Regions from separate parts of the Homo sapiens genome. Here region 2 is linked to region 1. The links come from fine-mapping of genetic effects on gene expression. A gene starts in region 1. The other region holds a variant in brackets. All regions are shown on one strand. Distances are from middle to middle. Region 1 holds the start of MYO1C (myosin IC). Region 2 overlaps MYO1C (myosin IC).

Region 1 (4,376 bases):
GCTAAAACCTCACCTCCAGGCCGGGCGCGGTGGCTCAGGCCTGTAATCCCAGCACTTTGGTAGGCCTAGGCAGGTGGATCACAAGGTCAGGAGATTGAGACCATCCTGGCTAACACGGTGAAACCCCGTCTCTACTAAAAAAAAAAAAAAATTAGCTGGGCGCGGTGGCACACACCTGTAATCCCAGCTACTCAGGAGGCTGAGGCAGGAGAATAGCTTGAACCCGGCAGGTGGAGGTTGCAGTGAGCAGAGGTCGCACCACTGCATTCCATCCTGGGCAACAGAGCGAGACTCCATCTCAAAACAAAACAAAACAACAACAAAAACAAACAAAAACCTCACCTCCATCACTGCTCCTTACCTGGGCCAAGACAGCAGCCTAACTGGCCTCCTTGCCTTCCTCCTACCAATCCATTTCCTCTGGGGCAACACAAATCAAATCAACACCTCATGTTCATAGAGTGAAGGTTTAGGACACCCTCCATATGCCAGGCCCATGATTCACACTCACTGCTGCTTACCAGGACCCTGCCTATGAACTCCCGAGACCCCCCTGCTGTCCCCAGTTTACCCCACTGCTCCTGCATTCCGATGTGCCAGATGGCCCGCTCCAGTCCCCTCTCCCCCCACCCCTCCCCCCAGGAGGGGGCCTTCGCACCGTCGCCAGCCAGTCCAAGCTTCAGTGCCTGCACCTGCGGCTTCCCCAGCCCGGGGCACTCTCCCTGCCCACCTCACTGAGACTCGGCTCAGGTGTCACCTCCTCCAGAACCCCTTCCTGATTCTCCCAAACACGCAGCGCCTCCTTATCGCACCCCGCAGGAATCAGCTGTTTCCTTGTCAGTCCCTCCCAGGAGACGGCTCCCACTCCCTACACGCAGCGAGGCACACGGTGGGGCTCAGTCACCCCTTCCCGGACCCCTGGATGAATGAATGAATCTCAGAGCCAGGCGTGTGCGCGGGAGGCCGGAGCGTGAGGACTGAGGGCCGCGTGGCCATCCTCCTTCTCCGGCCACCCCGGAGCCCCCCGCCCGTCACACTCGGGGCGCGCTGGGCCCCAGGGGCGGAGAACGGGAAGGGGCGGGTTTAGGCGGCTTCTCCGGAACCCAGAGGCGGAGCAGGGCTGCGGGCGGGGCCCGAAGGGCGCGCAGGGTCCTGGGTCCTGCAGCCCAGGCCGCTCTTCCCCGCCTCCCGCTCCCCGCAGGTAAATCTAAGTCTCCACCAGGCTGCGCCGGCGCCTCCGGGTCGTGGGACCCCCCCCCCCCGCACGGGTCCACGCGGCCGTTCTTCGGCCCCAGCGATCCCCGGCCGTGACCCCTGCCTCGTGCACGGCGGCTCCCGGCCCGGCCGCCCGCTCCCCACACCCGCCCCCCGCGGCCGCCGTCCCCGCGCCCCGAGTACCCACCGGCGTGGCTCTTCCGGCGCGGGCGGGGCCGGGCTGGGCGGCGTGGCGGGCTTGGGGATCCGCGGCCCGGGCGCACTCTCCCCGCCCAGGGCCCGCCGGGGGCCGGGCCGCAGCCTGTCGTCATCCCGGGCAGGGCCGCGCACCCTCCGGCCCCGCCCCGCCCCGCCTCAGCCCCGGCCGCGTCCGCGAAGCCTCGGTGCGTGCGGCCCCCGCCTCGGCCCGTTCCCGGGGCCACAGCGAACACGCGCGCGCCCCTCCGGCCGAAGACCCGGCTCCCCGCCGCGCTGCTGGGGGCGTGGGGGCGCCCGACTTTCTCCCTCCTCCGGGCCCTTTGCATCTCCAGCCCCTTCCTGCGGGCCGGGCCAGGGCCGCGCTCCCCCGTTTCTACCCACCCGTGACCCTTCACCCACCTCCCACACCGTCCTTCTGTTCTGAGTCTTGGGCGGTCCCAGCCCTGCGGACTGGAGAGGAGCGGGGCGTTGACTGAGCCTGGAGCTTCCATGCCCTGGTCCTTCGACCTCACAGCAGCCGGCACTTGCCTTTTGTGCCCAGTATTCACGGTTCTGCCCACTGAGGTTCGGGAAGCCGGGGAAGAGTCAAGCCCAGACCTCCACTTCCAAAAATCCTGCTGCTAGTGGCCCTTGCATCCTTACTCTTCCACTCACCCCGTCTTGTTCAGTCTGTTCTGGCCCCGCCAAGGATCGGAACCCCTCCCCGCTGCTCAGCTCTTGCCCGAGGGCTCGCCTGAGAGGGGCTGCCCGGCCTTGGGGAGACGCTCCCACCCTCCTCCCAGCCCAGAGCATCCCAGCTTACAAGCTTGCAGGGCCTGTGGGGATGAACCACGCGGATGATCTCCCCGGTGGGTACCAGCTCCACTTGCAGCGCCATTCCGCCCTGCGGAGAGCCAGCGGCCTGGGCACCGCGGCCTGTGAGCAAGAGCTGCCTGCCCACTGGCGGGCTCCGACCACTCCGGGACCAGGAACCTACGGTCTAACGCCGGGATGGCCACTTGGTTCTGCTTCAACTGCAGCCCCAGGGGATGTGGCTGGTCCAGCTCCTCAGGACACGGCTGGAGCCGTCCAGGTCTGACTGGGAGGCCTCTTGGCCCGGATGGTTGGAGCAGGAAGAGGAGGGGCTGGGGATGGAGGAAATGCCTGTTGTCCCAGGTAACCAGAGGAGCCGATGCAGCCACCCATGGGGGACCCTGGGCTCCAGGTCAAAGGCTAGGACGCCTTTCCCCTTCCCCCCATCCCCACGGCAGCTCTATGGCTGGGCCCCTCCTCCTGCCCACTCTCTGGTACCACCTAGAGAGCACGGGGCCCACTCCCCAAACCAGACGGCATGCCCTCCCCTAGGCCAAGAGGACCCGTTAGTAGGCACTGGCTTTCCTGCACATCCCCTCAACGGGGCTGCCCCCCACAGCAGGTGAGCCCCCACCATGAGTTTGAGAGACCAGGGCTGCTGGGGCCTGGTCATGCAGGGCCCGGACAGGGGGCTGTCCCGCTGTGAGGAAGCTCTTGGCTTACCCTCCTCTGAGCCTCAGAGCTTGTGAGGTTAGTTCCTGGGTTCCCTGGGTGTGGGCAACCTCTAGCCCTGTTCATCCCTTGCGTTTCAACAGTACCCCCAGGTGACCCCCACCCCTGATGTTCCTGCTTTTCTATTTTTATTGTTGCTAAATCACAGCTGACACTTTCCTGGCCTGAGACTGAGCCCTCCAGTCTCCAGCCATTCCTTATAGGAAGTAAGAACAGGGAAGTGGATAGGGGAAACAGACCTTTCCAGAGGGAGAGGCTGGCATAGGAAGGGCTGAGTCCCGTGGGTGTGTGCTGGCACCGACAGCCCCATAGGCAGGGGCCTTCCCCCCGGCACCCTTCTCTCTCCCCACAGCTTCCCCCGCCCCGGAAAAGCTAGCAAGCCTTCCTTCCTTCCTCCGGGAAGCACATCTATCCAGAGCAGGCTCATCCCCGGCGGCCACACAATGGCCCTTATCAGCCGTGGAGCCAGGCGTAGACCCAGTGCACACCAGGTCTCACTTATTTCCTGTTTCCACCCAGTGGGTCGGGGTGGACCCAGAACGGCCATATCCTGACTGGGGCCCAGAGGACGGAGAGCACCCCCCATTCCCCTTTCCGCCTCTCAATCACTGCTGGGCTCACCCCTCCCACACAGGAGGCTGGGTGTGTGGCGACCTCAGTTCACCACGGGGGAGGTGAGCATGTGGGGGGACCCCTGGGGTCAAGCCCCGGGGCCGCATTAATCAGAACGGGGAGGCGGGTCTAGTGCGATACACTTTCTGCAATTGTTCTCCCACAGTAATCTTGAGAATAGGGACATCATCTGTATTTTACAGACTACTGAGACCGCTCTGCGGGTGGGTTCAGACCCCATTCCTGTTTCTGGTCCTGTGGGAAACCACAGGTGCCTGGAACTTTGAAGAGACTGTACCACTTCTCTGAGCCTTGGCTTTCCCATCTGCCCAATGAAGGGTGCCATGCAGTAACCCTCGTGATGGCTGTGCATGTGAGAAGGAACAGGTGGGCAAGTGAGGGCTTTGGAGGTCCCTAGGTATATGTGTTGGGGGCAGGGATAGGTTACCATGGGGGAAAACTCAGCAAGAAGGGGCTGAGGAGAAGTGGGGCAGAAAGAGAAGATGGTGGCATTCTGGACTGGTTAACGCAGGCAGAAGGCTCAACACCAGGGTATGCAGAGCAGCGGGTCAGGAGGGATGAACAAGAGCTCATTTGACTTAACAGAGTACATTAAGCGGCCACCGGCATAGATGGCATGCTCCACCTGGTTAGGGCCCCAGAGGCTCACCATTCTAGAACCTCATCCTAGCCCCAGTCCTGGCCACTTCTGCAAATCTCAGACACAGAAGTCTAGTTGGGATCTACAGGGTCCCTGTTCCTGGAATCTACAGCTAGTCCCAGGCCCATCACCGTACCCCCACCCCCCAATCATCAGTCACACGCAA
Region 2 (4,360 bases), 29 kb before region 1:
CTCAGGAGACTCCACGTTCCTCGAGGGCTTTGCCTTGCTGTTCCCTCTGCCTTGACCACTCTTGCTCCAGATCCTAGCCGTCACTTCCTCTCCTCGTTCAGGTCCCCGCTCTGATGTCATCTCCTCTGTGAGGCCTTGCCTGACTGCAAACTACACACCAACACTCCCTCTCCCCTTGTCTGCTTTGCTTATTTTCCTAGCACTTATCTCTTTCTAATATGTTAGGTATTTTCCTTACGTATTGTCTATTCTTTGCTAGAGTGTAAGCTCCATGAGAGCAGGGATTTGGGTCTTTTTGTTGTTCCTGCTATATCCCAAGAGCCTCACTGAGATCCTGGCACATTGCAAGCATTCCTTCAATTCATACTGGTTGAATGGGCCGGGCGCGGTGGCTCATGCCTGGAATCCCAGCACTTTGGGAGGCCAAGGCAGGCGGATCATGAGGTCAGGAGTTCGAGACCAGCCTGTCCAATATGGTGAAACTCCGTCTCTACTAAAAATACAAAAATTAGCTGGGCGTGGTGGCACGCACCTGTAGTCACAGCTACTCAGGAGGCTGAGGCAGAATTGCTTGAACCTAGGAGGCAGAGGTTGCAGTGAGCCGAGATCGCGCCACTGCACTCCAGCCTGGGCGATGCAGTGAGACTCGTCTCAAAACACACAAACAAACAAACAAAAACCTGTTGCCCAGGCTGGAGTACAGTGGTTCCATCTCAGCTCACTGCCACCTCCACCTCCCGGGTTCAAGCAATTCTCCTGCCTCAGGAGGCCAGGTTGGTCTCAAACTCCTGACCTCAAATGATCCACCCACCTCGGCCTCCCAAAGCGCCGGGTTGAATGAAGGAAGGATGAATGGAGAACTGGCGGAAGCTCTTGTCTAGAGCCAGCATTAGCTTTTCCCATAATTGGCAGATATTTCCTGGAGGTCACTGGACTTCCCTCAGGATGTGAGCTGAGGGCACAAACCAGTCCTGGTTACCTCTCAAAAGGTCAGAGTAGGCTGGGCACGGTGGCTCACGCCTGTCATCCCACCACTTTGGAGTGACCACTTTGAGATCGTGCCATTGCACTCCAGCCTGGGCGACAGACTCTGTCACAAAAAAACAAACAAACAAACAAAAAAAGGCGGACGTCTGGGTAATGTCTGTGATGTCATTCTCGCGTGCATTCTGGTTTGCTAGAGAAAGGAATGTCGACACAGTTATAAAGCATGTAATTGCACTTAATACCTATCTTATCTATCAGCTTCTTGGAGGCATCGTTACTGCTGATAAAGTGGACGAATAATTGTGGTTTCATTTTTCCTCGGGAAAATTAATCATGGAGAGAGGTGTCAAAATGTAGGTGTGCGTACAGGATCGTGTCAAGCCCAAAACACCACGTTGCGTGGTATCTCCTTGTTTGAGAATCTCTGCCCCAGGTTTCAAATCTAAGCTCCTCAGGCAGCTGGCCTGACCCCGGGCCAAACCTGTTCTTGCCTCTAAGCTCCACATGCACCGTTCCCTCCACCCACAGCGCGCCGCCCTCTTGGAAAAACTCACAGCCATCTGCTGACGACGAGCTCCGTGGTTGCAGCTTGAAGCACTTTCTTTTTTTTTTTTGCTCTGTCGCCCAGGCTGGAGGGCAGTGGCATAATCTCGGCTCACTGTAACCTTCGCCTCCGGGGTTCAAGGGATTCTCCTGCCTCAGCCTTCCGAGTAGCTGGGATTACAGGCACACGCCACCCTGCCTGGCTAATTTTTGTATTTTTAGTAGAGATGGGGTTTCACCGTGTTGGCCAGGCTGGTCTTGAACTCCTGACCTCAGGTGATCCACCTGCCTCAGCCTCCCAAAGTGCTGGGACTACAGGCGTGAGCCACCGCGCCCGGCCCACTCATTCTCTTTCTTGTGGAGGCGACACTGATTTCATTTTGGCGAGTCATCTCCTCCCACTCTTGGTTCTGTGGTTTCCGGTGTGGGTTCC[G/A]GTGTGCCCCTGGTAGCTCTGTCTCCAGGGGCAGGCACTCGATCCAGGCCTGACCAATCAGAATCTATTCCTCTCCCTGGCTACAGTGATTGGGTCAGGGTGGATGCCTCATTCAAGGTGCTGCACTGAGAATCCGCTCTGAGACTTCCACATTTTGGGAAAGAGGCACTTCCTCTTTCTGCCTCCAATGCTGAACTGACAGAATGAAAGCCTGGAGCTGTGGGTGGCTGTTGCTGCCACCCCACCTCCAGGTGAGAATCTGCTTGGGAAAGAAGCCACTGTAGAGGAAGGTTCAGCCAGGCGATGGTTCCAGACACATTCCTGACAGTGTGTGAGCACCTGGAAGTAGCCTTACTCTGGGACTAAGGTGCTAATGCTTATAAATATCCTTTTTTTGGCCCAAGCCAGTTTGGACTGGGTTTGTCACTTGCAACAGAATTTGAACGAGAGGTGTCCGGGCACGGTGGCTCATGCCTGTCACCCCAGCACTTTGGGAGGCCGAGGTGGGAGGCATCACCCAAGGTCAGGAGTTCGAGACCAGCCTGGCCAACACGGTGAAACCCAATCTCTACTAAAAATACAAAAATTAGCCAGGCGTGGTGGCGCATGATGTAGTCCCAGCTACTCAGGAGGTTGAGGCAGGAGAATCACTTGAACCTGGGAGGTGGAGGTCGCAGTGAGCCAAGATCACACCACTACACTCCAGCCTGGGTGACAAGAACGAGACTGTCTCGAGAAAAACCTGCAACACGAGGCCCTTGGTTGCCTTCCGGGGCCCTCTTCGTTTCCTAATATTCATAAGGAGACCACATTGGCAAACACGTATTGCTTTATTTAGTGTTTCTCTGGATTGCAGAAGTGTCAGCAGTGGGCTGAGACCCCCAGAAGGGCATAGAGGCAGCTGGGCAGCCCCCAGGCCCTTGAGGGTAGGAGCAGGGAGAAGCAGCAGAAGGAGGTGATGCCCCTGCCGCTCCTCCCAAGGCCAGCCCCGTCCCCACGCTCCCATGCCAGGGAGGGGTCAGGGGCCAGAAAAGGCCCTACATCCTTGAGTGGGGCCCGAGTGTGCGGGCAAGCTGTCTGTCATCCCAAGGCCTGGACTCTGGCAGAGGCGCTTTTCCCACCTGGTGGCTCCCAGGGCCGATTGCTGGTCAAGGAGCCAGATATACTCTTAAGACATGATGTGGGTTTTATGGGGCTCCCTGGCTCTGGGAGTGGCAGTGAGGCACGCTGAGGAAGGGCTGCCATCTTGGTTTTGTGGCAACCTGCCGTATGACCGTGGGCAAGTGCCTTCTCCTGTTTGGGCATCTGTCTTCTGCTCTGTAACATCAAGGGGCTGGGCTGGATGATCTCTCAGCGTCTTCCAACCTCTATGGTCTAAGACGGCCTTCCCCACTCCAGCACTGCCTCAAACTGGGATGATGAGGACAGTAAAAGGGCGTTCTTTTTTTTTTTTTTTAAGACGGAGTCTCGCTCTGTTGCCCAGGCTGGAGTGCAGTGGTGTACTCTTGGCTCACTGCAACCTCCACTTCCCGGGTTCAAGTGATTCTCCTGCCTCAGCCTCCCGAGTAGCTGGGATTAGAGGCGTGCACCACCATGCCCGGCTAATTTTGTATTTTTACTAGAGGCGGAGTTTCTCCATGTAGGTCAGGTTGGTCTCGAAATCCTGACCTCAGGTTATCTGCCCGTCTCCGCCTCCCAAAGTGCTGGGGTTACAGGCGTGAGCCACCATGCCCAGCCTAAAAGGACATTCTTAAGGCAGAAAGAAGGGGGCAGGCAAGGGTGGTCTCAGCCCCCAGATGGAAGTCAGAGTGGGCTGCAAAAGATGCAGATGGGCAGGCAGGGAGACAGGTAAACAGACAGAAAGACAAGGTGCCAAGGGAATCAGGAGGAGAGGTGTCCTGGCCAGGGAAGAGGGCACCAGAGCCCAGCCCACACAACCTCTCGGCTACATTCCTTGCCCTGCTGGAGTCAGGGAAAACACATCCACTGTGTCCTTGGGTGGGAAATGGCTTTTTTTAAAAAATAGTTTCCTATAAAGCATCAAAAAAACCTCAGAGAAAACCTCAGCAAAAGTTCCCTTCTCTCAAATATTTGGCATCGGCAGTAGGGCTGGCATGGCTCGCTCTGGCCCTGGCTTTCCTATTGCTGTGGCCCGGCCTGGCCCACTCCTGGGGTAGCTCCTGGCCCCTGCTGCTCCCTCAAGAGAGGGATGGGCAGGAGGTGGGAGATTGCAGGTGGGCTTCGGGGTGTCCCTGGGTCCCTGTCTGGAAGTTCGAGTCTTTGGTAACTGGGAAGGGGAGGAGGAGAAAAGCAAAGCATTGGGCGTTGGGAGGGTCCAGTGGGCGCCTTTATCACCGAGAATTCAGCCGTGGGGCGACCTGTGGGGGCGGAGAGAGA

Evidence for each region. PIP is the estimated chance that this variant, and not a neighbour inherited with it, causes the effect.
Region 2: its variant is fine-mapped to the expression of MYO1C in whole blood (TOPMed, PIP 0.93).

The regions. Positions count from the first base shown.
Region 1 is chr17:1,490,198-1,494,573 of GRCh38, forward strand. MYO1C (myosin IC) reads right to left here and starts at 2,489. Exons shown (of 32, transcript NM_001080779.2): 1 at 2,216-2,489. The coding sequence starts at 2,290. LOC105371483 (a long non-coding RNA gene) reads left to right here and starts at 2,590. Exons shown (of 2, transcript XR_934145.4): 1 at 2,590-3,428; 2 at 3,753-4,376. RefSeq lists an enhancer at 821-1,540 and silencers at 825-1,264, 1,345-1,744.
Region 2 is chr17:1,461,412-1,465,771 of GRCh38, forward strand. MYO1C (myosin IC) reads right to left here. Exons shown (of 32, transcript NM_001080779.2): 32 at 2,775-4,341. The coding sequence ends at 4,315. Among named protein-coding and RNA genes, the nearest start is that of CRK, 7.4 kb to the left of the region's middle. RefSeq lists enhancers at 1,585-1,664, 1,794-2,613. The variant G/A (reference allele first, on the strand shown) is at 1,964.